7 linked regions of the Homo sapiens genome follow. The protein of the gene in region 2 interacts with the protein of the main gene of each other region in a biochemical or structural test. Each region holds a gene or a part of one and is shown on either strand. Other genes may lie near its edges. The genes, in order: HIPK2, SMAD1, FOXG1, CDK7, BMPR1A, GSK3B and TAPT1.

Evidence for each region.
Region 1: the proteins of SMAD1 (region 2) and HIPK2 form a complex in vitro, tested with the Homo sapiens proteins (one study listed by BioGRID).
Region 3: the proteins of SMAD1 (region 2) and FOXG1 form a complex in vitro, tested with the Homo sapiens proteins (one study listed by BioGRID).
Region 4: of the proteins of SMAD1 (region 2) and CDK7, one has a biochemical effect on the other in vitro, tested with the Homo sapiens proteins (one study listed by BioGRID).
Region 5: of the proteins of SMAD1 (region 2) and BMPR1A, one has a biochemical effect on the other in vitro, tested with the Homo sapiens proteins (one study listed by BioGRID).
Region 6: of the proteins of SMAD1 (region 2) and GSK3B, one has a biochemical effect on the other in vitro, tested with the Homo sapiens proteins (one study listed by BioGRID).
Region 7: the proteins of SMAD1 (region 2) and TAPT1 form a complex in vitro, tested with the Homo sapiens proteins (one study listed by BioGRID).

The regions. Positions count from the first base shown.
Region 1 is NC_000007.14:139,575,183-139,579,119, reverse strand, and holds part of HIPK2 (homeodomain-interacting protein kinase 2), read left to right. Parts: intron 1-3,831; coding exon 3,832-3,937.
Region 2 is NC_000004.12:145,512,743-145,516,679, forward strand, and holds part of SMAD1 (mothers against decapentaplegic homolog 1), read left to right. Parts: exon of another isoform or gene 1-740; intron 741-1,695; 5' UTR 1,696-1,871; coding exon 1,872-2,271; intron 2,272-3,937. UniProt on the Homo sapiens protein: Transcriptional modulator that plays a role in various cellular processes, including embryonic development, cell differentiation, and tissue homeostasis.
Region 3 is NC_000014.9:28,765,282-28,769,908, forward strand, and holds the start of FOXG1 (forkhead box protein G1), read left to right. Parts: upstream 1-1,505; 5' UTR 1,506-1,998; coding exon 1,999-3,468; 3' UTR 3,469-4,627. UniProt on the Homo sapiens protein: Transcription repression factor which plays an important role in the establishment of the regional subdivision of the developing brain and in the development of the telencephalon.
Region 4 is NC_000005.10:69,255,165-69,259,101, reverse strand, and holds part of CDK7 (cyclin-dependent kinase 7), read right to left. Parts: intron 3,643-3,937; coding exon 3,574-3,642; intron 1,060-3,573; coding exon 949-1,059; intron 1-948. UniProt on the Homo sapiens protein: Serine/threonine kinase involved in cell cycle control and in RNA polymerase II-mediated RNA transcription. Cyclin-dependent kinases (CDKs) are activated by the binding to a cyclin and mediate the progression through the cell cycle.
Region 5 is NC_000010.11:86,885,338-86,889,274, reverse strand, and holds part of BMPR1A (bone morphogenetic protein receptor type-1A isoform 3 precursor), read right to left. Parts: intron 1-3,937. UniProt on the Homo sapiens protein: On ligand binding, forms a receptor complex consisting of two type II and two type I transmembrane serine/threonine kinases.
Region 6 is NC_000003.12:120,003,838-120,007,774, reverse strand, and holds part of GSK3B (glycogen synthase kinase-3 beta), read left to right. Parts: intron 1-3,937. UniProt on the Homo sapiens protein: Constitutively active protein kinase that acts as a negative regulator in the hormonal control of glucose homeostasis, Wnt signaling and regulation of transcription factors and microtubules, by phosphorylating and inactivating glycogen synthase (GYS1 or GYS2), EIF2B, CTNNB1/beta-catenin, APC, AXIN1, DPYSL2/CRMP2, JUN, NFATC1/NFATC, MAPT/TAU and MACF1.
Region 7 is NC_000004.12:16,160,353-16,164,289, reverse strand, and holds the end of TAPT1 (transmembrane anterior posterior transformation protein 1 homolog), read left to right. Parts: intron 1-752; coding exon 753-982; 3' UTR 983-3,785; downstream 3,786-3,937. UniProt on the Homo sapiens protein: Plays a role in primary cilia formation. May act as a downstream effector of HOXC8 possibly by transducing or transmitting extracellular information required for axial skeletal patterning during development. May be involved in cartilage and bone development.

The sequences.
Region 1 (3,937 bases), on a different chromosome or scaffold from region 2:
ACTGGATTCCCTGGCCAAAGCTCTTTCCCATACTCAGTTATTTCATCTTTCCTCTCCTAGGGCTTCCTTACGCTTTTCAGTGTCACCAGGCAGTAATCCTAAAGTCCAGCAAGGTTTCCAAAAAATATAAATCACAGAAATATAGCTGTCCGGCACGGTGGCTCACGCCTATAATCCCAGCACTTTGGGAGGCCAAGGGTGGGGCAGATCACCTGAGATCAGGAGTTCGAGACCAGCCTGGCCAACATGGCAAAACCCCATCTCTACTAAAAAATACAAAAAATAGCCAGGTTTGGTGGCACACACCTGTAATCCCAGCTACTCGGAAGGCTGAGGCTGGAGGATCACTTGAACCTGGGAGGCAGAGGTTGCAGTGAGTCGAGATTGCACCACTGCACTCCAACCTGAGCGACAGAGCAAGACTCCACCTCAAAATAAAAAAAGGAATTTAGCTGTCCTCCATAGAAAGTCAAGGTGATAAAAATATTTCAAGCACATTCCAGAAACTTAATGAAGAAAAATAACTGAGTACAAGATACAACACATGAAGTGCTCAAATCAACAAAGGATGGCGGAAAGGAGGTTACTCATTACCTTTCTCTCTTAAAATGCGCTCCCTTTTTCCTGGGCAAAGTCTTCCTCAGTCTGGTTCTTAGACTAAGAATCAGTACCATGGCTGGGCACAGTGGCTCACGCCTGTAATCCCAACACTTTGGGAGGCTGAGGCAGGCAAATCACTTGAGGTCAGGAGTTCACGACCAGCCTGGCTAACATGGTCAAACTCTGTCTCTACCAAAAATACAAAAATTAGCAGCTGGGCGCGGTGGCTCATGCCTATAATCCCAGCAGTTTGGGAGGCCAAGGCAGGTGGATCACAAGGTCAGGAATTCGAGACCAGCCTGGCCAATATGGTGAAACCCCGTCTCTACTAAAAATACAAAAATTAGCTGGGTGTGGCAGTGGGCGCCTGTAGTCCCAGCTACTCGGGAGGCTGAGGCAGGAGAATCACTTGAACCCGGGAGGCGGAGGCTGCAGTGAGCTGAGATCACGCCACCGTACTCCAGCCTGGGCGACAGAGCGAGACTCTGTCTCAAAAAAAAAATTAGCTGGGCGTGGTGGTGCATGCCTGTAATCCCAGCTACTTGGGAGGTTGAGGCACGAGAATCACTTAAACCTGGGAGGCAGAGGTTGCAGTGAGCCAAGATCACACCACTGCGCTCCAGCCTGGGAGACAGAGCAAGACTCCATCTCAAAAAAAAAAATCAGTATTGTTTCTGTGCACATCTCACCCCAGCAGGACTGGTTGCCCAAGGAGGCAGGACAGCCCCCAGCCCCAGCGCCAGGCTCTTGTTCATTCCCTGGTCTGCCCTGCCCTTCTTGGTGGGGGACCATCTGCCTGTCTTTCCACCTGGAAGATGTTTTCTTCTCCATTAACTCTACTGTTCTTTAGCGTTTAAGGAACAGAAGCAATGCTTGTTGTAACTATGGTTTCTAACTATACAACACAAACCACACAGTCTTCAGGCTGCTTTGTCGTAGCCTTCACTTACTAAACCCCTCTTTTTCTGCTTCCGTTGTCATTGAAGTTAGAGAAAGGTATCTGGAATTTTCTGCCTCCCACACTTTCCTAGGCCATTATGCAGTTTGCTCCTAAAGAAGCCCAGTGTTGGCCCAGCGCGGTGGCTCACGCCTGTAATCCCAGCACTTTGGGAGGCCAAGGGCAGGTGGATCACCTGAGGTCAGGAGTTTGAGACCAGCCTGGCCAACATGGTGAAACCCTGTCTCTACTAAAAATACAAAAAAGTTAGCCAGGCGTGGTGCCGGGTGCCTGTAATCCCAGCTACTTGGGAGGCTGAGGCAGGAGAATCACTTGAACCTGAGAGGCAGAGGTTGCAGTGAGCCGAGATCGCACCATTGCACTCCAGCCTGGGCAACAAGAGTGAAACTCCATCTCAAAAAAAAAAAAAAAAAAAAAAAAAGGAAGCCCAGTATCTTCTCACTAGTCTGGGTCTGTTTGTTGCTTTTGCCATTACAAAAGTGCTTGCATTTAATGAATGGCTATGACTGGTGCATCTGGGTGCATTTGATTGGAAATTTCATTTAGGTGTGTATTAATACTGCACTGTGTGTTAGGCAGCCCTCTCCTGGAGGAGAGCTGAGGCACAGGGACATGGGGGGCTAGTAAAGCATCTCTTCTGCTTTTATCAAGGGGTGATGGTCCTGTCTGCAGAACTCCCCAAGCTGGGGTGGGGAGATGGCCCCCACTCGGCAGCAGAGCTCCCGCCCTCTGGGGCTCTTGCCCCTGCTGGGCTGGACACTCATGCCCTGTCCTGCCCTGTCCTGTTCCATCAGCCTTCTTGGACTTGGGCTGTCCCTGACTGTCAGCGTCTTCATCTGGTTTATCCTCTGGCCTCGCCACCTCATCTGCGTGATCTGTGATGCCTCCTCCTTATTCACGCTCTCAGCCTTCTCCCTGCCACCCCCGTCCCTGGTGGTACACAGTCACCGTCCTTAGCACAGGGCAGGAGCTCAGAAAATACTTGGATGAGTTAAAACCACTGGGCTCTGAAGAGGCTCCTGGCTCCCCTGGCTCTCTGGCTGGGTAACATGGAAGCCATCCAGCTCAGGGTTTAACCCACCTCTCTCAGAGCCCCTGGCTACTCAGAGCGTGGTCCCCCAAGCAGCAGCACTGGCACCCCCTGGGAGCTTGTCAGAAATGCAGGTGCTCGGGCCCCCCAGAGCTGCTGGCCAGAGTCTGCACTGAACAAGATGCAGGAATTACATTTGAGAACTGTTGATGGAGCCACCTGCTGACCATGAGGTCACCTCTGGAGGGTTGCAGTGTTTTTTCCACTCTTCAGCCCCCTTGGCAATAACATGGAGGCAGTTTTGTGCTTGGCCATGTTTGGCTCACAGGGCCATTCCCCGGATGATTTAGTCTCATCCTGCCTAGAGGCAGGTAACTGGACCAGGTGACTCTGAGGGTTATTTTAGCTTCTAGTAGTTTATTAGGTCCCACCACAGACACTGTCTCCTCTGATACTCATAGTCACCCATGGTGGGGACCAAGCAGGGATCCTGTCTTAGTCTATTTTGTGTTGCTGTAACAGAGTACCTGAGACTGGGTAATTTATAATCAATAGAAGTTTATTTGGCTCACGATTCTGAAGACTGGAAGTCCAAGAACAGGATGCCAGCATCTGGCAAGGACCTTTGTGCTGCATCTTCCTAGCACAGGAGGCAGAAGGACAAAAGAGCATGAGGGTGAGGGGGCCAGACTTGTTTTCATCAAAAAAGCCAATCTCTCAATAGCTAACCCACTCCCGAGATAATATTAATGCACTGATGAACTCATACACTCATGAGGGCTCTGCCCTCAGGACCTAACATCCCTTACTGGCCCCACCCTAAACACTTGCACTGGGGACTAAGTTTCTAACACAAGAACTTTGGGGAACACATTCAAATTATAGCAGATCTCTCCTACCCATTTTCCAGATGCTGAAAGTAACACCTCCCAGAGGAACGGCACTGGGCCTGGCCTTAGGCCACCAGCCCACCTTGCCTCTCCTGATTCTTTTCCGCTTTCCCTTGCTTCATTCCCTCATGCAGCCCCGACCACCCTCCCAGCCGAGGGAGTGAGCCAGAGCCCCACTGCATCCAGAGTCAAGGCAAAGTCCTAGTGGGTCCGGGGGAGATGAGGCTGATTTGTTACTGCCCGGCCTCAGGCACATGTTTCTTCCTGGAAGACCACTGTTCTCTGGTGGGGTAGCATCTTCTGGGCAGCTGGGACCCTGCCACTGATCTGACCTCTTTCTCCTCCCGCCACAGTCAACACCAGTCACCACTCGTCCTCCTACAAGTCCAAGTCCTCCAGCAACGTGACCTCCACCAGCGGTCACTCTTCAGGGAGCTCATCTGGAGCCATCACCTACCG
Region 2 (3,937 bases):
GGTCCTGTTTCTTGGTATGCTTGATAACTTTTGGTTCATTGCATACACTGTGAATTTAAAATTGTAGTGGCTAAGGTTGATGTTGTCTTCCTCTACAGAGAATTTGTTTTTCTTCTGGCAAGCTGTTAGAGAGCAATACCCATCACCTAGACCAAGGCTAGGATTAAGATGATTCTAGATTGGTTGTAAAGACTGATCCGTTTCATTTTTGCCCTTAGACTGGGGCATATTCCTCCAGGAGCTTCCATTGAAAGCCTAGACTATTTACCAGGGTTTCTCCTCAGCAGGCCCTCAACTCCATTTGTTGCTGTGTTGTTATTTTGGGGTTCCTCAGCGCTATGAGGCTACTAGAAGCTCTGCTTAGTTTTTAGCCTCTTAGTTACCTCTTTCTGCTCGGCTCCTAGACCTTTTGCTGCTCATAGCATAGCTATTGGCAAATCCCTGGAAAGAGTGGTGACGAATATTCAGCTCACTTCATTGCATTTCCCCTCTCTCCAGGATCTTGGCCCCCTCAAGTCCTGAGTGCCTTGGTTCCTCTTTGATGCCTTTAAAAAGCTGGGCTTTTGTTTGTTTGTTTTCTGGCTTGTTTGTTTGGAAGGAGGTTGGTCTGATACGTGCTACTCCAGTTTAGCCAGGGTTTGTACAAAGTTAACCTCCTTAACCTTTTTCACATTTTATGTTTTCATGTGCTAAAGAGTAAACAGTTTAAATGAGGCAACTTGGCTAAAGAATTTGGTACAGTATGTGTCCATGTGCTTTATTCCTTTTATGTCAATAAATAGCAACATTTTTAAAGCAGGAGATGTATTTCCTATCCTATTTGTCCTGTAGCCCATAGACACAGGCTTGTTCACTGAAGAAATACCCTAAAATATTACTACATTTATATAAGAGGAATTTTCTTTTAGCCTAAGAAATATTTGTAGAACAAACCAAAAAAACAGAGATATTAGACTATTTTTTTCTCCCTGTTGCTTTCAGTTTTTGTTGATTGAGGTGTTTTGAAATATATTTTTAGAGGTTATAAATGAATCTAAATCTAAAATATTACAATATCTTTTGAGAACTTGGGCTTTTTAACTTTGTTGCTTTTATCCCAGAGCTTTTGCTAACAGTGGCTTACTTTTTAAACTGCTTCTCAGTTTACTCATCTGTAAAGTGGCAGCAATTGTATTACCTAACTCAAAGGATTGTGAAAAGCATTAAATGCTATATATTAGTCTGCTTTGGTTGCCATAATAAAATATCATAGACTGGGTGGCTTAAATAACAGAAATAGATTTTCTCTTTGTTCTGGAGTCTGGAAAGTCCAAGATCAAGGTTCTGGACAATACAGGCTCTGGTGAGGGCTCTCTTCCTGGCTTGCAGATGATCACCTTCTTGCAGTACCCTCAGTGTGTGTGCATAGAGGCTGGAGGAGGGAGATAGCAATCTTAAGACCACCAGTCCTATCAGGTTAGGGCCCCACCCTGATGACCTTACTTAACTTTAATTACTTTCTTAGAGGCTCCATCTCCAAATATAGTCATACTGAGAGTTAGGGCTTCCGCATATGAATTTTAGGGGTCACAATTCAGTCCACAGCATACTGTATTACATAAAAGCACTTAAAATAGTACCTAGCACATGGTGATTACTTAATAAATGTGGTTGTATGGTAAAGATGATTCTAACCATTCTTTTTTTGTTTTGTAGGTGCTGACTGGGTTACTTTTTTAAACACTAGGAATGGTAATTTCTACTCTTCTGGACTTCAAACTAAGAAGTTAAAGAGACTTCTCTGTAAATAAACAAATCTCTTCTGCTGTCCTTTTGCATTTGGAGACAGCTTTATTTCACCATATCCAAGGAGTATAACTAGTGCTGTCATTATGAATGTGACAAGTTTATTTTCCTTTACAAGTCCAGCTGTGAAGAGACTTCTTGGGTGGAAACAGGGCGATGAAGAAGAAAAATGGGCAGAGAAAGCTGTTGATGCTTTGGTGAAAAAACTGAAGAAAAAGAAAGGTGCCATGGAGGAACTGGAAAAGGCCTTGAGCTGCCCAGGGCAACCGAGTAACTGTGTCACCATTCCCCGCTCTCTGGATGGCAGGCTGCAAGTCTCCCACCGGAAGGGACTGCCTCATGTCATTTACTGCCGTGTGTGGCGCTGGCCCGATCTTCAGAGCCACCATGAACTAAAACCACTGGAATGCTGTGAGTTTCCTTTTGGTTCCAAGCAGAAGGAGGTCTGCATCAATCCCTACCACTATAAGAGAGTAGAAAGCCCTGGTAAGTGAGTTATTTTATGTTGATGTGCTTTGTGTGCCCAGTACCAGATTTGTGTTGTTTAGAACATGAAAATAATCCCTTTGCTTGTTTTTAGTTGTAATTTAAAAATATTTGGGGAAACTGTGTGTGTGTGTGTGTGTGTGTGTGTGTGTGTGTGTGTGTGTCTGTGTGAATGCAAGAGAGAAAGCCCCTGAGTGTTTCATACATTTTAACAGCTTAGTCATCTCTAGTTAACATTATGTCTTGGGAGCAGGCTATGACAATTGTCATTGCAGTACTAATACCTCTAATTTTTAATAAATTGTTTTCTTTCTAAATTTATTTTTTATGTCTCACATGGTTCTCTGCATTTCTCTAGATAAAATTAGCTATGAATTGTATTCTAAGGGAAGAAAATTAGGAAAGAAATGCATTATTGCTGTCTATATGCTTAAGGGAAGTACATCATGAGGGTAGTTGCCAGTGACTTAAACCATTCTGAACTTAAGAACAGCACTTTTTATCATCTCTGGCGGAATTTTGCTGTGGCATATTTCCTATGGTGAATATGAAGGAATTATATCCTTCTATGGAATCATTTGATGCTATTACTTTATAAAATATACCCAGTTTTTACATGTATAGTCTTTTGGGAGGGTATGGTAAAGGATATATTTTAAAATTTATACGGTTTTGCCCTCAAGTTAGAATCTACATTCTAGAGAGTTGGATCATTGGAAAGTGATTAGATATTCAAGCACTTAAATGTCTCATTGTCGATTGGGACCAATTTTGTTGATGGATTGGCTGTTAATAGTTCCTGGGTTACTAAGGCTGTATATTAGAATCACATGGCTCTCCTCCCAGAAATCCTGATCCTGGGATAGCCTGGTAATCTTTGTTTCTAACAAGTACTTCAGGTGTTACTGATGTAGCTATTGGATTGGTGTTTAGGAATTACTAAACTAGATCATGTAATAACATGGTTTTCAAATAAAAGGCATTCTGTATTTTTGTGGAATATTTAAGACATATTTTAAAAAAAGATTTTAAAGACCAGTAGTATAACAAACATCTCTGTATCCCCTACTCATTTTAAGAAATAAAAGATTACGTGTAAACTGGAACCCCTGTTTTTGCTCCTCTGATTCTGCTCCCTTTGGTAACCACTGTTCTGAATCTGACGCTTATCATTCTCATGCATGTTTTTATACTGTTATTACATATGTATGAGTCCATGACAATATGTAATATTTTATATATTTAAAAATGTTACATAATATTGGAGTTTCTTTGTACAACTTATGTTCATCCAACATTACGTTTTTGTGATTTCTAGATTATATACTTTAGGATTACCTTGTTAAGTCCTATGAAAAACACTTTGGGAATTTATTGGAATTTCGTTGATTTCATTTGGGGAAGATTGGCCTACTGTGCTCTTGAGCATAATATTATTTAGTGCACTTTTAAGTTTCTCCATACAGCTCCTGCACTTACTAGATTTATTTCTAGATAACTGGTTTTTATTGTATCCTTTTAAAAGTTACATTTTGTTACAGTTGCTCTTGGTTAAGAGAGCATTGCCTTTTTTCTAACAACTGTGCTGAATTCTCCTTACCAGTTTGGATATAGACGTTCTTTACTGCTTGTTATATCAGCTGTGATGCAGTGTTCTTTTTTCTAA
Region 3 (4,627 bases), on a different chromosome or scaffold from region 2:
AATGTGCTCCCCACTAAATTCCAATCCCTGGGAAATGCTGGGCCTTAGCCCTGCCCCTGGCCACGGGATCCTTTTAAAGCCCCCGATTCGCAATTTCCCCATTCACTTCAACCTCCAACCGAACCTTCCCAGTTCCAAAGCCCAAGAAGCTGGGACTGTGAGATCCACGTTCCCAAGGCTCCCCGGTGCTTTCCAGCAGCACTCAGGGTTGGCAAGAGCTGGCTTCAGTATACTGTTATTTCAGGAATGAGGCCCGCACAAAATAAAAGCATTTGAGAAACGGAAAGGAAAAAAAAGGAGTGAAAATAGGAAGGCTTAAAAAAAAAACCGGAAAGAAATAGACGCCCACCCTTATTTTCCCTCCAATGTCAACAAGCAAAACGAAAATATTTCCAGGGTGATCGCTCGCAGCTACCCGCTTCCAATTCGGATTAGAAGCTGAGGCTGGAGCGGCGAGGAGAAAACGACATCGAGTCACCCCGCGCGTGAGCGACGCTCTGGAGCAGGAGAGAAGGAAAAGGAAGAGACACACGTATATAGCATGTGTTACCTGATTTATTTCGAGATTGTTTGGTACTGTTTTCTCTCTGGGCACCTCTCATTTCGGAAGGCCATCAGAGGCGCCCACTACTGAGCGGCCCCGGCCGCCGCAGCAGCACCCGGAGCCCCAGTCCCGGTTTCCCCGCGGTGCCGGAGCCCGGAGCTCGCCGCCGCCCAGGCCTCAGGAATCGAGTAAGTAACCCCTGTTTGGCCCCGCGCTCCTCTGCCCACTTCCTCCTCCTCATCTCATCGCTCCCAAAGCTCTCCCACACCCTCCTCCCCCGAAGTAAAGGACACCCCCGCACACACGCCAGCGGTGGGCCTTATCTCCCCCCTTATCCAAAGCTGCGCTAGACTATTACCTACAAAGGGCACAATTTTCCTGCTGGCTCAGAAATGCCAGACACTGGCCTGCAAGGCCGACTCGGAAAAGTAGTGCCTCGCCTCTACCTCCTCCATTTCCTGCCCTCTCGCATCCTCTCCCTGCACTCCCACTCTTCCCACTACCACCACCACCCCCGCTTTCAAAAATAAAATTGGATACAAACTTTAATCACTAAGGACAAATATTGACGCTTAAACGAAAATGACCCAGTACAATGAGGAGGAAGCCGGAAATGTGAGCTATTGGCCCTAGGAGGGGAATTTCGGTGGAGCGGAGCCGGCGGGGTGGAGGGGGTGGCGGGGGCGCAGGGAAGGGCTGCGGCACCGCGTGCTCCCGCCGGCGTATCCCTACGCGGCTCCGCGCGGCCTCGGGGTCCGAGGCCCGCGGAGAGGGGGAGGCGAGCGCCCGAGGGGGCGGCAGCCGGCGGGCGGGGCGGGGGTGGGTGGGCCCGGCCCCTCCGATTGGTCGACGGCGAGAGAGACGCTCCCGCACGCCGCCAGCTCTGATTGGCCCAGCGGTAGGAAAGGTTAAACCAAAAATTTTTTTACAGCCCTAGTGTGCGCCTGTAGCTCGGAAAATTAATTGTGGCTATAGCCGCCTCGATCGCTGTCTCCCCAGCCTCGCCGCGGCCGCTCCGGGACGCGCCCGCCCGCCGCCCGGCTCTCCCCCCCTTTGGGCTGCTGCTGCTGCTGCTGTGACTGCTGCTGCGAGAGGAGGAGGAGGAGGAGGAAGCAGCGGGGGGGGGAGCGGGGGGTGGGGGGGGAGACCAAGAAGTACAGTTGGGAGCGAGGGAGCTTCACCCCCGGGGCGGTGGTTGTTTCTTTTTTCTTTCTTTCTTTTTTCTTTTCCTTTTTTTTTTTTTTTCTAATTCCTGAGGGGTGGTTGCTGCTTTTGCTACATGACTTGCCAGCGCCCGAGCCTGCGGTCCAACTGCGCTGCTGCCGGAGCGCTCAGTGCCGCCGCTGCCGCCCGCGCCCCCCGCGCCCCGTTCGGCACCCACCGGTCGCCGCCGCCCGCCGCGCCGCTGTCCCGCTCCCGCGCCGCCGCCGCCGTTTCCCCCCGACGACTGGGTGATGCTGGACATGGGAGATAGGAAAGAGGTGAAAATGATCCCCAAGTCCTCGTTCAGCATCAACAGCCTGGTGCCCGAGGCGGTCCAGAACGACAACCACCACGCGAGCCACGGCCACCACAACAGCCACCACCCCCAGCACCACCACCACCACCACCACCATCACCACCACCCGCCGCCGCCCGCCCCGCAACCGCCGCCGCCGCCGCAGCAGCAGCAGCCGCCGCCGCCGCCGCCCCCGGCACCGCAGCCCCCCCAGACGCGGGGCGCCCCGGCCGCCGACGACGACAAGGGCCCCCAGCAGCTGCTGCTCCCGCCGCCGCCACCGCCACCACCGGCCGCCGCCCTGGACGGGGCTAAAGCGGACGGGCTGGGCGGCAAGGGCGAGCCGGGCGGCGGGCCGGGGGAGCTGGCGCCCGTCGGGCCGGACGAGAAGGAGAAGGGCGCCGGCGCCGGGGGGGAGGAGAAGAAGGGGGCGGGCGAGGGCGGCAAGGACGGGGAGGGGGGCAAGGAGGGCGAGAAGAAGAACGGCAAGTACGAGAAGCCGCCGTTCAGCTACAACGCGCTCATCATGATGGCCATCCGGCAGAGCCCCGAGAAGCGGCTCACGCTCAACGGCATCTACGAGTTCATCATGAAGAACTTCCCTTACTACCGCGAGAACAAGCAGGGCTGGCAGAACTCCATCCGCCACAATCTGTCCCTCAACAAGTGCTTCGTGAAGGTGCCGCGCCACTACGACGACCCGGGCAAGGGCAACTACTGGATGCTGGACCCGTCGAGCGACGACGTGTTCATCGGCGGCACCACGGGCAAGCTGCGGCGCCGCTCCACCACCTCGCGGGCCAAGCTGGCCTTCAAGCGCGGTGCGCGCCTCACCTCCACCGGCCTCACCTTCATGGACCGCGCCGGCTCCCTCTACTGGCCCATGTCGCCCTTCCTGTCCCTGCACCACCCCCGCGCCAGCAGCACTTTGAGTTACAACGGCACCACGTCGGCCTACCCCAGCCACCCCATGCCCTACAGCTCCGTGTTGACTCAGAACTCGCTGGGCAACAACCACTCCTTCTCCACCGCCAACGGCCTGAGCGTGGACCGGCTGGTCAACGGGGAGATCCCGTACGCCACGCACCACCTCACGGCCGCCGCGCTAGCCGCCTCGGTGCCCTGCGGCCTGTCGGTGCCCTGCTCTGGGACCTACTCCCTCAACCCCTGCTCCGTCAACCTGCTCGCGGGCCAGACCAGTTACTTTTTCCCCCACGTCCCGCACCCGTCAATGACTTCGCAGAGCAGCACGTCCATGAGCGCCAGGGCCGCGTCCTCCTCCACGTCGCCGCAGGCCCCCTCGACCCTGCCCTGTGAGTCTTTAAGACCCTCTTTGCCAAGTTTTACGACGGGACTGTCTGGGGGACTGTCTGATTATTTCACACATCAAAATCAGGGGTCTTCTTCCAACCCTTTAATACATTAACATCCCTGGGACCAGACTGTAAGTGAACGTTTTACACACATTTGCATTGTAAATGATAATTAAAAAAATAAGTCCAGGTATTTTTTATTAAGCCCCCCCCTCCCATTTCTGTACGTTTGTTCAGTCTCTAGGGTTGTTTATTATTCTAACAAGGTGTGGAGTGTCAGCGAGGTGCAATGTGGGGAGAATACATTGTAGAATATAAGGTTTGGAAGTCAAATTATAGTAGAATGTGTATCTAAATAGTGACTGCTTTGCCATTTCATTCAAACCTGACAAGTCTATCTCTAAGAGCCGCCAGATTTCCATGTGTGCAGTATTATAAGTTATCATGGAACTATATGGTGGACGCAGACCTTGAGAACAACCTAAATTATGGGGAGAATTTTAAAATGTTAAACTGTAATTTGTATTTAAAAAGCATTCGTAGTAAAGGTGCCCAAGAAATTATTTTGGCCATTTATTGTTTTGTCCTTTTCTTTAAAGAACTGTTTTTTTTTCTTTTGTTTACTTTTAGACCAAAGATTGGGTTCTAGAAAATGCACTTGGTATACTAAGTATTAAAACAAACAAAAAGGAAAGTTGTTTCAGTTGGCAACACTGCCCATTCAATTGAATCAGAAGGGGACAAAATTAACGATTGCCTTCAGTTTGTGTTGTGTATATTTTGATGTATGTGGTCACTAACAGGTCACTTTTATTTTTTCTAAATGTAGTGAAATGTTAATACCTATTGTACTTATAGGTAAACCTTGCAAATATGTAACCTGTGTTGCGCAAATGCCGCATAAATTTGAGTGATTGTTAATGTTGTCTTAAAATTTCTTGATTGTGATACTGTGGTCATATGCCCGTGTTTGTCACTTACAAAAATGTTTACTATGAACACACAGAAATAAAAAATAGGCTAAATTCATATATATCTTGATACTTTTGTCTCTTTTATTAAGTAGAGCTAATTTTTTAAAGACCAATCAACTTATAGGGAATTCAAAGGCTTTTTCAGCCAAACTAAAATTTAAACTGCTCCTTTAATTTGAACTGACTCTAAAAATGAAAATAGTATTTTTCCCTTTGTGAACAAATTTTACAAGGAGCAGCCTATTTAATAAACACTAGCTTTAAACAAAGTATAGGCTTTTCAGCTGATACCTGTAAG
Region 4 (3,937 bases), on a different chromosome or scaffold from region 2:
AGACCTATGTTCTTTTTTTTTTTTTTGAGACAGGGTTTCACTCTGTCACCCAGACTAGAGTGCAGTGGTGAGGTCTCAGCTCACTGCAACCCCCACCTCCTGGGCTCAGGTGATCCCCCAACCTCAGCCTCCTGAGCAGCTGGGACTACAGGTGTGCACCACTGCACCCAGCTAATTTCTGTATTTTTTGTAGAGATGAGTTTTCACTATATTGCCCAGGCTGGTCTAGAACTCCTGGGCTCGAGATATCTACTTGCCTCAGCCTCCCAAAGTGCTGGCAACACAAAAGTGAGCCACCATGCCTGGGTCAAAACCTATGTTTTAATACTCTGTCCATTATCAGCAGCCAACCTTGAAAAAAAATATAACCATGGTCAGGTCACTTAGCAACTTAGCTCTTCATCTATTAAAAAATGAGGAGGCCGGGCGCAATGGCTCACGCCTGTAATCCCAGCACTTTGGGAGGCCAAGATGGGCAGATCACGAGGCCAGGAGATCGAGACCATTCTGGCTAACACGGTGAAACCCCGTCTCTACTAAAAAAATACAAAAAATTAGCTGGGCGTGGTGGCGGGCACCTGTGGTCCCAGCTACTCGGGAGGCTGAGGCAGGAGAATGGCATGAAACCAGGAGACGGAGCTTGCAGTGAGCAAGAGATCGCGCCACTGCACTCCAGCCTGGGTGACAGAGCAAGATTCCATCTCAAAAAAAAAAAAAAAAAAAAATGAGGGACTGGATCTCTTCCAGTTCTAAATTTCACAAAGTAATATGGAGTCCTTACAGCACCAACTGCTGGAACAAGTGAAGGGAATAATATATAGCAAAAAGATGGGATAAAACAGTCAGCTATAAATTCATTGTTAAACAATTTACATATTCAGACCACTATGTACCAAATTGGCTATATAAAACTTGACTAGTATAAAGAAGCAATATTAAAAACCTTACCCTATGTAGGATCCAATGTTGATGTAAATATTCTAATCCTTGAAGAGTCATCAACATGTAGGCTTTGATGTGTGATGGTGTCAGCACAAGACTATTATCCTTTATTATAACCTGTAAAGCAAGTATACAATATACAGGTACCCTTTATTATTTCAAATAAACTCTACCACATAAAACAATTTACAGACTTAAAATGTAAGTATCAATACAGGAGACTCTCAAAAGAGGTTATCTAAGTTTCCTCAGGAAGCCCTGTCAAAATCTCCAGAGTTAGATGGGTAGGGAGAGCATTTCTGGTTTGAAAAGAAAGCAGTGCTTTGTCCTCTACTGCTTTCGCATGAAAGTAGCAAACACCTGTTGTTTCTGCTTGCATCTTCTGACAATAGCAGTTAGTGTTCCTTTGGGAAGCCATCTCTTCTCAGCTTAGTCCACATGGTTAAGGTAGGACTGAGTCAACCTAAGGCCTCCAGAGGTAGGCACATGACCCAGGCATCCCCATTATCACACTGCAGTCTCCTGGCCAAGTGATTGGTTCAGGGATACAAGACAAGTCAATCAACCAGGCCAAGTACTTGTGCTAGAATCAAAGAAAAGAAAGCACTTTCGTTCCTCAGGTATTATTAAACTCTACAAACATATACCTAGAAGCATCTGGAACACCATATTGAGAACTGTACACATGAAGAATGCAACAGAGAAGAAAATGGAGCTTAGTTAAAGCGTAAGACTGAGTTTTGATGGCATTATTTATGAGCTGTGCCTAATGTCAGTTTATTCTAGATTTATCAGTTAGGAACTAAAAGTTCCCCTTTTCTTTTTTTAAAATCAGATTTAAGGTAAAGCATACCCTTTTTAGTGTATAGTTCCATGAGTTTTGACAAATGCATCCAGTCATGTAACCACCACTATAATCAAAGCATAGTTCCGTAACCTCCCCAAATTCCCTGAGGCCCCTCTGTACTTACTCCTTTCCTTTACCCCAAAGCCCCCATAACCGCTGATCTGGTTTCTGGTTCCTTTCATTTTGCCTTTTCCAGAATATCATATAAATGAAATGGTTCAATACATAGTCTTTTTAGCCTGGCTTCTTTCACTTAGTATAATGCATTTCAGATTCATCTATGTTGCTGCATTTATCAATAGTGTGTTTCTATTCCTGAGTAGTATTTCAGTTTGTTTGTACAGTTAGAATGAGGGATGTTTGGATTGTTCCAGTTTTGATAATTATTAATAAAGCCAAACATCTGTACCAACTGAATTCTGGCATACGTTTTTGTTTCTTTTTTTTTTCTTTTTTCGAGATGGGAATCTCACTCTGTCACCCAGGATGGAGTGCAATGGTGCAATCCATAGCCTAGTGGTGAGTCCATAGCCTATTATGATAGGTCCTTCCAGGATCAATACCATTAGTATTGTGATCTATAACAGCATCACTAATATTGTGATCGATACCACTAATCAATAATCTTGTGATCTAGCAATACCACTGCTAGGTATTTATCTAAAAGAAAGAGGCCGGGCATGGTGGCTCACGCTTATAATCCCAGCACTTTGGGAGGCTCAGGCAGGTAGATCGCCAGAGGTCAAGAGTTTGAAACCATCCCGTCCAACATAGTGAAACCCCATCTCTATTTTAGCTGGGCATGGTGATGGGCGCTTGTAATCCCAGCTACTCAGGAGGCTGAGGCACAAGAATTGCTTGAACCTGGGAGGCAGAGGTTGCAGTGAGTTGAGATCGCGCCACTGTACTCCAGCACGGGTAACAAAGCAAGACTCTGTCTCAAAAAAACAAAACAAAAACAAAAACAAACAAAAAAACTTGGCTTTCAAAAGAATGACATTACTCTGATTATATGGAAATAAGTTTCTTTATTTTTTAATATAATTTGTAAAGCTGAGACAGGATCTATGGGGTCCAGGCTGGTCTTGAACTCCTGGGCTTAAGCAATCCTCTTGCCTTGGCCTCTCAAAGTGCTGAGATTACAGGCGTGAGTCACTGCACTGGCCAGAAATAAATTTTAAATTCTTATAGGTTGCTAGGCATGGTGACTCATGCCTGTAATCCTAGCACTTTGGGAGGCTGAGGCAGGCAGATCACTTGAGGTCAGGAGTTCAAGACCAGCCTGGCCAACATGGTGACACCCCGTCTCTACTTAAAATATAAAATTTAGCCGGGCGTGGTGGCACCTGTAATCCCAGCTACTTGGGAGGCTGAAGTGAGAGAATCACTGGAACCCAGGAGGTGATGGCTGCAGAGAGCCGAGATCACGCCATTGCACTCCAGGCTGGGTGAACAGACTGAGACTCCATCACAAAAAAAAAAAAAAGCAAACAAATCTTATAGGTCTAATGCTCATTTCTCCAAAAATGACGTCAACTAGCTATGGGAACTTAGAAGGCAGAAATGCCAATGAAATCCAAATCTTTGTATGTAACACTGGGGATATCACTAAATGATTAGAAGAAAATAACTAGAGATCCTTTTGCCTCAGAGTACATCCAAATTTCAACAAAATTAAGCTTTTTTTCTTTTACTACCAGTATCTTCTTGGGTAGAAAACAAATATTTAGGTTCTTGTTTGATAAACTGGGACAAAGGAATTTCTCCAGGAATCTTAATCTTACCTCTAGATCAGTTTCCATAAAATCAAAGACAAGGCTAATATTAGATTTATGTCCAAAAGCATCAAGGAGCTGCAAAGTTAAAAAATTAAAATGTGATTCACTATTTAATACCTGACAGTATCATAGCAACTGAGGCAATTTTTAAAAATTTAAAAAGCATTTAAACTGTTGGTAATTCCCTATAAAGCTTAAATCATTTGATTAAATTTGACATTTGTCCTTTTTTGGACAGTACTAAAGGAATTAGTATTTTGAAGCATAAAAATATTAAATTTTACTTAAAAAAATACCCAACCTCTTTCCCCAAATATTTGGAGTTAGAATTAAGAAATTAACCAATGAAAACCTCATTCCAGTCTCCAAT
Region 5 (3,937 bases), on a different chromosome or scaffold from region 2:
ACTGAAGGTTATAGAAGGGCAGCAGTTAGCTCACAGAAATAGAACTATGTTCTTACACTAGAGTCTAGCAGCCTGCAGTGACAGATACTGTCATATTTGGTACTAAATCTTTCAGGCTGGAAGCAGAACGGAACTAAAAAAACTGTTCTAGTAATTACTTCCTCTCTCTGACTCAGCTAGGCCATTCTTTGTGGGTTACTCTCAAGGGAATGAAAGGTGGAACCAAACAGACAAGTGTATATGTATTTCATTATGAATGTTAAATAAGTGGTTCAAGACACAACACAGACTTGATTTTACATTTACCATACTGATGAGATAAACTACTGAAAAGACAAAAAATATCACATATGCACACACAGGTAACAGAAAAAGTGCTGCTAAATAGTGTTTTGATGATTACATGCCTTCAGTTTCAATAATTTTCACTTTTTTTTTTTTTTTTTTTGAGACATGGTCTCACGCTATTGCCCAGGCTGGAGTACAGTGATGTGATCAGAGCTCACTGCAGCCTCAACCTCCCAGGCTCAAGTGATCCTCCCACCTCAGCCTCTGGAGTAGCTGGGACCAAGGGCACATGCCACCATGCCCGGCTAATTTTTAAATTCTTTGTAGGGACAAGGTCTCCCTATACTGCTCAGGTTGGTCTTGAACTCCTGGGCTCAAGCGATCCTCCCGCCTCAGCCTCCCGAAGTGCTGGGAATATAGCCGTGAGCCACTATGCCTGGCCAATAACCTTCACTTTCTTATACCGAATATTTAGTAAAAGAATTTGCTACTGAATGAGTATAGAGAACATTTTTATTTGAGATAGAGTCTCACTCTGTCACCCAAGCTGGAGTGCACTGGTGCAATCTCGACTCACTGCAACCTCCGCCTCCCAGGTTCAAGCAATTCTCCTGCCTCAGACTCCCGAGTAGCTGGGATTACAGGCACCCCACACAACGCCTAGCTAATTTTTTTGTATTTTGTTGGTAGAGACAGGGTTTCACCATGTTGGCCAGGCTGGTCTCAAACTCCTGACCTCAAGTGATCCACTTGCCTCAGTCTCCCAAAGTGCTGGGATTACAGGCATGAGCCACCGTGCCCGGCCAGGAGAGAAAACACTTAAAAAAAAAAAAAAAAAGCTGGAAGTTTGTGTACATACATATATTACTCATCCCCGCGCCCCCCACACCACTCTCCTTTCAGAAATAAATTCCGTAATATAATGTCAAGGCTTCCGTTGGATCTGATTGCTACAAAGCGGAAAGACCTCCTTTATGTTAGAAACATCAACTGTAAAAGATGGGGTGGGGGAAGCAGGAGGTACAGGAAGGGAAGAAATCCACTGAGCAGGAAATGAGGAGACTGGGATTCTGTTTTGCCATGGGCCTACCCCGCTTTACCTAGCTGGATGGTCTTGGGCAAGCCATGTCACCTTTCCAGGCTTCATTTACTCTATAAGGCTACAGGACTAGAGGACAGGTGAGGGAACCTGACCAGCTTTAAAATCCTATTACATTAACAGAAGACACGTATCAATTCAGCTCTGGAAAACAAACAGTATATAATATATCACAGCAACTGATTTTTCAAAAATCTAGTGACACAGAAAAAGCAGTTTAGTGTGGCAGAAATATCACTTGAGATAACAGCAAGAAGTGAAGGGTTCAAGTCGCAGTTACGGGCACAGATAAGTTACTCTCTGAACCTCAGCTATCTATAGAAAATGGGGATAATAATTCCTGCCTAATTCAAATCAAGAGGTTATAGGTAGATCAAATGAATATTTACTAAAGTGCTTAACTACATGTAAAATAGTATACAAATGAAGATGTTACTAATAACAAAGATCAGAACACTAAAAGATCACTGATACATGAAAAAACTCAAAGTTATATGAAACTTCCTAGAATACTATTTGAATTCATGAGACAAAAAACTCAATTACAGTAGTTGTATCTGGAGCTTATGTTATTGCCAAATATTCAACAGAATACTTAGTAGGGGTCTATTATGTGCAGGCAAGGTATTAAATGCTAGAAACGCAAAGATGTGGCATCAAAACCACATATGTGGCCTTGAGAAACTTGGTGGAAAGCAGAGGGGGAATAAGCACAAAAGCAAATAAATACAATGTGAAAAGTGACAAAATACAAAGGCCAGGCGCGGTGGCTCACGCCTGTAATCCCAGCACTTTGGGAGGCCAAAGTGGGCACATCACCTGAGGTCAGGAGTTCAAGACCAGCCTGGTCAACATGGTGAAACCCCGTCTCTACTAAAAATATTAAAAAATTAGCTGGGCGTGGTGGCAAGGCGCCTGTAATCCCAGTATTCAGGTGGCTGAGGCAGGACAATCACTTGACCTGGGAGGTGGAGGTTGCAGTGAACAGAGATCAAGCCATTGCACTTCAGCCTGGGCGACAAGAGCGAAAATCCATCTCAAAAAAAAAAAAAAAAAAAAGTGACAAAATACGGAGGTGTTTACATGTAAACAAAGGAAAAGGCTCATCCTAGGTGTCAAACTCAAACTGATCTTAGGTGTCAAAAGTAATGAAATCTAAGCTACATCTTAAAAACTTGCAAGATTTCACCAAGCAGATATTGAATACAAAGAAAAGTAACAGGAAAGAGCCTCTCTGTGCTCTCCCTAGGGGACAGCGCCCACTCTGTTGATGGTTCCTGGATGTACCCCCTCTAGCCATGACCTGCTTAGACATCTCCTGACTGACTTGTCTTAAATGAACTCTTGATTTGCCTCAAACCTGGTCTTACCAAAGTCTTTTGGCTCAACCTCCAAAATGTATGTCAATTGTTTTCATTTTTCTCCAACTCCGCTGTTGTCACCAAGGCCCATCACATCATGCCTCTACTAAGGTAAGAAGTCTCCAACTGTTCCCTCTGCTTCTGCTCTTGGTCCCTGCAATCCATTTTCCACAGAGCAGCCAGAGACATTTTATAAACACAAATCTGTCACTCCTATATAAAACCAATCAATGGCTCCACAATGCACTCAGAATAAAATCCAACCTCCACTGTGTGCTCCCAGGGCCCAACAGGATCTGGGTCCTGCAGGCCTCACCATCATCACTTTACTTGGCACATGGCCTTCTGTCAGTTCTGAACATGTCAATCTCTCGCCACCCACAAGTCCCGTGTATTTACAAAGAATAAACTACGAGCCCTGGGGTGGACTGGGGGTATAGGTTATATTTCAAAACAAACACACACAAAATATTTAATAGCTTACATGTTTAAGTATAACATCTCAGGAAAAAATGAAAACATATACATACAAAGAGACAAACAGTTACAAGAGACACATGACCATACACAGGCACATTTACAGGTCCTTGTCATCAACAGCAATTTTTGGCATCAATGATTTTACTAGATTTTTATTCCTGGCTAAGTAATTTTTCATATTTTCCCAATAATTTATTGGCTTCCTTTTTCTACAGCAAATAAATGCCCTCTGCCGCAACCTTAAGATAGAATGTCTACAACAGAACTCAGATGGCAAACGGTTGGTGAGACCAATGGGCTACTGATGCACTATACATATGAGATAATCAGCAATGGTAGCCTAATGAATTCTGCAACAACAGTCTGCATCATTAATTAAATAGAAACCAGGAAGACATCAGCAGAAGGAAAGTCAAGTACAAGGAAGCAAGAACTAGGGAAAAGGTGGCATGTCTACAACTGTGCTGTCCCATATGGTAGCCACTAGCCACATGTGACTTAAAATGTAGACGAATTAAAATGAAGTAAAATTAAAAATCAGTTTCTCACCCACACTAGTCACAACTCAAGTGCTCAAAAGCCACATTTGGCTAGTAGCTATCACACAAGACAGCAGAGATATAGAAAACAGGTATTGGTTTTGTGGGCCCCAAGGTCTCTGTCACAACTATTCAATTCTGCCGACACAATGCAAAATCAGCCAGACAAC
Region 6 (3,937 bases), on a different chromosome or scaffold from region 2:
TATGTTGAGATACGTTCCATCGATACCAAGTTTATTGAAAGTTTTTAGTATGAAAGGCTGTTGAATTTTGTTGAATGCCTTTTCTGCATCTATTGAGATAATCATGTGGTTTTTGTCATTGGTTCTGTTTATGTGATGGATTACATTTATTGATTTGCATATGTTGAACCAGCCTGTCATCCCAGGGATGAAGCCGACTTGATCGTGGTGGATAAGCTTTTTGATGTGCTGCTGGTTTCGATTTGCCAGTATTTCATTGAGGATTTTCGCATCAGTGTTCATCAGGGATATTGGTCTAAATTTCTTTTTTTTTGTTGTTGTGTCTCTGCCAGATATCATTTGGTATCAGGATGATGCTAGCCTCATAAAATGAGTTAGGGAGGATTCCCCTTTTTTCTATTGATTGGAACAGTTTCAGAAGGAATGATACCAGCTCCTCTTTGTACCTCTGGTAGAATTCGGCTGTGAATTTGTCTGGTCCTGGACTTTTTTTGGTTGGTAGGCTATTAATTATTGCCTAAATTTCAGAACCTGTTATTGATCTATTCAGAGATTCGACTTCCTGGTTTAGTCTTGGGAGGGTGTATGTGTCCAGGAATTTATCCATTTCTTGTAGATTTTCTAGTTTATTTGCGTAGAGGTGTTTATAGTATTCTCTGATAGTAGTTTGTATTTCTGTGGGATCAGTGGTGATCCCCTTTATCATTTTTTATTGCATCTATTTGATTCTTCTCTCGTTTCTTCTTTATTAGTGTTGCTAATGGTCTATTTTGTTGATCTTTCAAAAAATCAGCTCCTGGATTCATTTATTTTTTTTTTTGAAGGTTTTTTTTCTGTCTCTATCTCTTTCACTTCTGCTCTGATCTTAGTTATTTCTTGTCTTCTGCGAGGTTTTGAATTTGTTTGCTCTTGCTTGTCTAGTTCTTTTAATTGTGATGTTAGGATGTTGATTTAGATCTCTCCTGCTTTCTCTTGTGGGCATTTAGTGCTCTAAGTTTCCCTCTAAACACTGCTTTAAATGTGTTCCAGAGATTCTGGTATGTTGTGTCTTTGTTCTCATTAGTTTCAAATAACTTATTTCTTTCTGTCTTAATTTCGTTATTTACCAAGTAGTCATTCAGGAGCAGGTTGTTCAGTTTCCATGCAGTTGTGTGGTTTTGAATGAGATTCTTAATGCTGAGTTCTAATTTGATTGCACTGTGGTCTGAGAGACAGTTTGTTGTGATTTCTGTTCTTTTACATTTGCTGAGGAGTGCTTTACTTCCAATTATGTGGTCAATTTTAGAATAAGTGGGATGTGGTGCTGAGAAGAATGTATATTCTGTTTATTTGGGGTGCAGAGTTCTGTAGGTGTCTATTAGGTCCGCTTGGTCCAAAGCTGAGTTCAAGTCCTGAGTATCCTTGTTAATTTTCTGTCTCCTTGATCTGTCTAATATTGACAGTGGGGTGTTAAAGTCTCCCATTATTATTGTGTGGGAGTCTCAGTCTCTTTGTAGGTCTCCAAGGACTTGCTTTATGAATCTGGGTGCTCTTGTATTGGGTGCATATATTTTAGGATAGTTAGCTCTTCTTGTTGAATTGATCACTTTACCATTATGTAATGGCCCTCTTTGTCTCTTTTGATCTTCGTTGGTTTAAAGTCTATTTTATCAGAGACCAGGATTTTTTTTTGCTTTCCATTTGCTTGGTAGATCTTTCTCCATCCCTTTATTTTGAGCCTATGTGTGTCTTTGCACGTGAGATGGGTCTCCTGAATACAGCACATTGATGGGTCTTGAGTCTTTATCCAGTTTGCCAGCCTGTGTCTTTTAATTGGGGAATTTAGCCCATTTACATTTAAGGTTAATATTGTTATATGTGAATTTGATCCTGTCATTATGATGCTAGCTGGTTATTTTGCCCATTAATTGATGCAATTTCTTCTTAGCATCGATGGTCTTTATAATTTGGCATGTTTTTGCAATGGCTGCTACCGGTTGTTGCTATCCATGTTTAGTGCTTCCTTCAGGAGCTCTTGTAAGGCAGGCCTGGTGGTGACAAAATCTCTCAGCATTTGCTTGTCCGTAAAGGATTTTATTTCTCCTTCACTTATGAAGCTTAGTTTGGCGGGATATGAAATTCTGGGTTGAAAATTCTTTTCTTTAAGAATGTTGAATATTTTCCCCCTACTCTCTTCTGGCTTGTAGAGTTTCTGCCGAGAGATCTGCTGTTAGTCTGATGGCCTTCCCTTTGTGGGTAACCCAACCTTTCTCTGGCTGCCCTTAACATTTTTTCCTTCATTTAAACCTTGGTGAATCTGACAATTATGTGTCTTGGGGTTGCTCTTCTTGAGGAGTATCTTTGTGGTGGTCTCTGTATTTCCTGAATTTGAATGTTGGCCTGCCTTGCTATGTTGGGGAAGTTCTCCTGGTGAATATCCTTAAGAGTGGTTTCTAACTTGATTCCATTCTCCCCATCACTTTCAGGTACACCATTCAAACGTAGATTTGGTCTTTTCACATAATGCCGTATTTCTTGAAGGCTTTGTTCATTTCTTTTCACTCTTTTTTTTCTAATCTTGTCTTCTCGCTTTATTTCATTAATTTGATCTTCAGTCACTGATATCCTTTCTTCTGCTTGATTGAATCAGCTACTGAAGCTTGTGTATGCTTCACCATGTTCTCATACTCTGGTTTTCAGCTTCATCAGGTCATTTAAGCTCTTCTCTACACTGTTTATTCTAGTTAGCCATTCGTCTAACCTTTTGTCAAGGTTTTTAGCTTCCTTGCAATGGGTTAGAACATACTTCTTTAACTTGGAGAAGTTTGTTATTACTGACCTTCTGAAGCCTACTTCTGTCATCTTGTCAAACTCATTCTGCATCCAGTTTTGTTCCCTTGCTGGCGAGTAGTTGTGTTTCTTTGGAGGAGAAGAGGCGTTATGGTTTTTGGAATTTTCAACCTTTCTGCTGTGGTTTCTCCCCATCTTTGTGGTTTTATCTATCTTTGGTCTTTGATGTTGGTGGCCTACGTATGGGGTTTTGGTGTGGATGTCCTTTGTGTTGATGTTGATGCTGTTCCTTTCTGTTTGTTAGTTTTCCTTCTAACAGTCAGGTACCTTAGCTGCAGGTCTATTGGAGTTTGCTAGAGGTCCACTCCAGACCCTGTTTGCCTGGGTATCACCAGAGGAGGCTGCAGAACAGCAGATATTGCTGCCTGATCCTTCCTCTGGATGCTTCGTCCCAGAGGGGCACCCACCTGTATGAGGTGTCTGTTGGCCATTACTGGGAGATATCTCCCAGTCAGGCTACACAGGGGTCAGGGAACCACTTGGATAACAGTCTGTCCCTTATCGGGAGCTGAAACGCCATGCTGGGAGAACCATTGCTGTCTTCAGAGCTGTCAGGCAGGGACGTTTAAGTCTGCAGAAGCTGTCTGCTGCCTTTTGTTCAGATATGCCCTGCCCCCAGAGGTGGAATCTAGAGAGGCAGTAGGCCTTGCTCAGCTGTGGTGGTCTCTGCCGAGTTTGAGCTTCCCTGCTGCTTTGTTTACACTGTGAGCATAGAACTGCCTACTCAAGCCTCAGCAATGGCAAACGCCCCTCCCCCCACCAAGCTCCCACATCTTAGGTTGATCTCAGACTGCTGTGCTGGCAGCGAACAAGGCTGTGTGGGCGTGGGACCCGCCGAGTCAGGCATGGGAGGGGATCTTCTGGTCTGCCTGTTGCGAAGAGCATTGGGAAAGTGCAGTATTTGGGCAGGAGTGTATCGCTCCTCCAGGTACAGCCACTCATGCCTTCCCTTGGGTAGGAAAGGGAAATCCCCCAACCCTTTGCACTTCCCAGGTGAGGCAATGCCCCACCCTGCTTCGGCTCGCCCTCCATGGGCTGCACCTGCTGTCCAACCAGTCCCAGTGAGATGAACCAGGTACCTAAGTTGGAAATGCAGAAATCACCTGTG
Region 7 (3,937 bases), about 130 Mb from region 2:
GAGGGATTACTACAAGAGAGCTGGATGTGTCATTACCTCCATCATGGCAGTAGTGTGACCAGGTGTATGCACATGTCAGAACTCATCAGATTATACATTTTAAATGTGTACAGCTGATGGTGTGTCTTTTTTGCCTCAAAGAAGCTGTTCTTACATGGATTGAATGTATGATTCAGATGAGTCTCTCCAGGCCCCAGCCCAGCTGTCCCCAAAGCCAGGCTCCAGGATCTCTGTGGCCTAAAATGAACATTGGGGGTTTTGTTTATTTGTTTGTTTGTTTTTAACCTCTGGTTTGGACTTCCCAGAGATGATGATGCTAAACCATCTGTAGCTGAAGTGACTACAGATGACAGGTGGAATGTAGTAAAGTCTTCTTGGCCCACTCCCTGATGTTCTGTATTGGAGCAAGTGTTAATGTTTCAGGACTGCCAACAGTCATGTTAGGTCTTGATTATATAGAGAGGAGCCGTAATGTAGGAGTTGTGATCTTTCTGCAGTTGGGTGATGGCATTGTTTGTGTGATACGAGCAATGTAATGTACCCTTCCATAAAGTTGAACAAACAGATGATTAGCCTCTAAGTTTTATTATAAATGATGGCTGCTTATACAACATGCTATTTGGTTATCATTTGCTTTATCGGAAAGCATGGATAATGGGCACTTTTTTCAGCACCACTGTATTGGTAAGTTTGTATTTATTAATAATTGGAGAAAAGTCTTTCTCTAATTTAATGGATCTATTTTATCACAGGCCTTTCCACAGAAGAAAACCTGTCTGCCTCCATCACCAAACAACCTATTCATCAAAAGGAAAATATCATACCATTACTTGTGACAAGCAATTCTGATCAGTTTTTGACAACTCCAGATGGTGACGAGAAGGACATAACGCAGGACAATTCTGAATTAAAACACAGATCCTCAAAGAAAGATTTGTTAGAGATAGACAGGTTCACAATTTGTGGAAACCGAATTGACTGAATCTGTGGCTTCATGCGCTGAAGAAGCTGGGTCCTGGGGCAACAAGTGCTGTGTTGCCAGGACAAATAGATGCTAAACATGGCACTTAAATATTTATTTAAAAACTTAAATTATTATTGGCAAGCAAATCTTAGTATCTTTCTTCCAGTAATATGGCCTGGCTGAGGGTCAGACCACAGGACAGGAGCGACCTCCGGCCTTGACTGTCTGGGAAGCTTGATGGATTATAAAACTTCCTCCTGCCTGGCCAAGCAGCAGCATCATTTCCAGGACCCAACAAAGGCAACATCAAAATCTGTTTTGCTTTGTCAGTCTGGGCTTCCAGAATGTTGAATTTGCCTCAAGGCCTCTTCAGTATAAGGAAATACCTGGAAAACTGTGAAACTTTTACCACGACGTAATCTTTCCAGTCTCATACTATTTTCACAAACAGTTTTCAAACGTTACTTCATCTGCCAAAGCATTAAAAAAATTAAACATAAGTCAAGATAAATGTTCTTACCACCAGAATAACCCTTAAAGATGTATCTTAATTAATCAGAATAAAAGGCTACCTTAAATAAGACATGATGAATAGTAGCATTTTGTAGGGTTAAAAAAAAATGCTAAACTAGTTTATTTATTAAAAAAATAATTAATGAAGGCTATGCATTACTGGGAAAAATCCTTCATAATTTTTCAGTTTACTCTTTAAAGCAAAATGTGAGCTGTATGTCATTTAATTGGTGGATAAAACAAATTTCCTTACAAAAGGGCACTTTTTACACCAAGGAAGCAGAGCAGTGTTAACTTTAAGGTATACTTAACTGATTTTGCTTTAAAACTAATTACTTCATAAATTATTACAGCTAAAAGGATTCGATGTTGAACAGGCTGAAAAATTGTCAATGTACAAAATTCAAAACTGTCAACTTTAACTGTAAAGTAAATGCTCCAAGTGTGTTAGACAGCATCATCTTGCTTGGGCTTACCAAATGCATTAGTCTTTGTGTTTGGGTCGACAGCGAGTGTGCCTGTGCTGGGGCAGGGTGTGTGTTCTGTGGGAGGGTGTCTGTGGGGATGTGACTATCAGGGTGGGCCTGTGCTGGGGATGGGGCAGGCCTGGGTCTGGAGAGGATTTTGTGTGAAAGTAAATGGGGTGTTTGAGGCGTATGGGTGGCTGTTGGTGTGGGGAGGCATCTGTGTATGGCTGTTGGGAACAGCAACCAAAAGGTGCTTTTTGGTTTTATTTGAGATGAAGATTGTGTTTCCGCTTAATTACTAGTTTGTGGTCTATATCATAGAAGTTATTTCCCACCCCATTTTATCTTGACAACCGTGTTTGCATTTCTGTAAAACTTCTACAACTTCTGGTGTCAGAACTGTCCAGAAGATGGTACTGTTAACTGTTATTTCCTTTGATGTTTTGATTTTGAAGTTTAGCTCTCATGCAAATGTTTCAGGCGTACATACATAGGCAGAAAGCAATTTTTAGGTGATTTGTCTGTTTCTTGGATGAAATATAAAGCAAGCTTTAATGTTCTGACTTGTTCATTTGAAATACAAAAAAGTAAGTGAATTTTAATGTTTTGCATTAACTAAAGAAATCTGAAGATTAATGTTGAGGAAATTGTATGGACATGCCTTTGTGAAACCAGGAAGTATTTTAAGTTAAAAATGAAAAAGGTTTTAATTGCTTTGTGTGTGTTTTAATGGAGCCCCATTTTAGAATTATTTTTTCCATCTCCCTTTACCAACAAAAGGAACAATGCCACCGTGAATGGAATAGTTTGGGGAAAGCTTTGCCAAACACAACCCTGATTTCAGAGCAGGAACATGGTTTGGATAGATCTTCAGTTCCGCTTGAATTATTCTGTTACTGCGCTGTCATTTTCAGAAGATTTCCATTCCTTTGCAGATGCTGTTGGGAGTTCGGGATTATGTTCATTTCTTCTGTTTTAATGGCATTCAGTACTAATTTTATAAGTGCATCTTGTGTGAATCTCAATAAATTCAGTTTTGTAATCTTTTTTAAAAAGGTCACTGAATTTATTTTAATATTTACTATTGTATTTGGTAGAGTGAATTTCCCACTGTATAATAAGTATTTATTTGTAATTCACAAGTGATAGAGCTATCTTAATTTGAATTATTGCTTTGGTCTTAATGGTGGCAAAATGTTTAATTTTGTCTTTGGAAAAAATAGGCTCGGCCTTGATTATAGACCATTTAATATTTCTCAGCAAATGAAGGTATTTGCATTTTACAAGTGTTTTGAATGTCACACAAAATATTTTTCACATCTGGGAGTCAAGTTCAAGACAGTGCTTTGGTTTTAAAAAAATCTAATGAAGGCACAGGATAGGCCAGACCCTTATTAGGTTTTCCTTTAGAATAAGTGTAAAGACCAAGTGTCACTGATACGCTTGTCCAGATTTTCTTGTGGACTTTGGCCAGTATTTAGAGTTTATATTCATGTTACATAAAGTGAAAGAAACTTGCTATAATTAGGCCATCAAAATATATCCTGCCACTCCTGGTAACTCAGCAGAGGAGGAGATAAATTTACAAAATAATGTAATATCTCTACATTGTTACATGTTTTCAACTATTTTTTATCAACAAAGATTTGTTAATCACTTCCTATGTGTCAGAAACTGTTCTAAGTGGTGGGATCAGCAATGAGCAAGATAAGTCCCTGTTCGTCTGTGGAAGACTGATAGGAACAAGTCGATGAAATAATGTCTGCTGGTCACAGAGTGTCCACTGACCAAATGATCTCTCAGGCTTATTTCAGCTCTAAAATATAGTTCTTTAAAACGTTTGTGTAAGTCTGATTTTTTTCCTATTGGATTAGCTTGAAATAAGATAATTGTATAGCAATTTTACAGTGCTTCTATAAAATAGAAATAAGAAAAGACTTTCTCCCTGAAGACTGCTAGTTGTCCAGCAGAATCCATTCTCCTGTTCCATTGT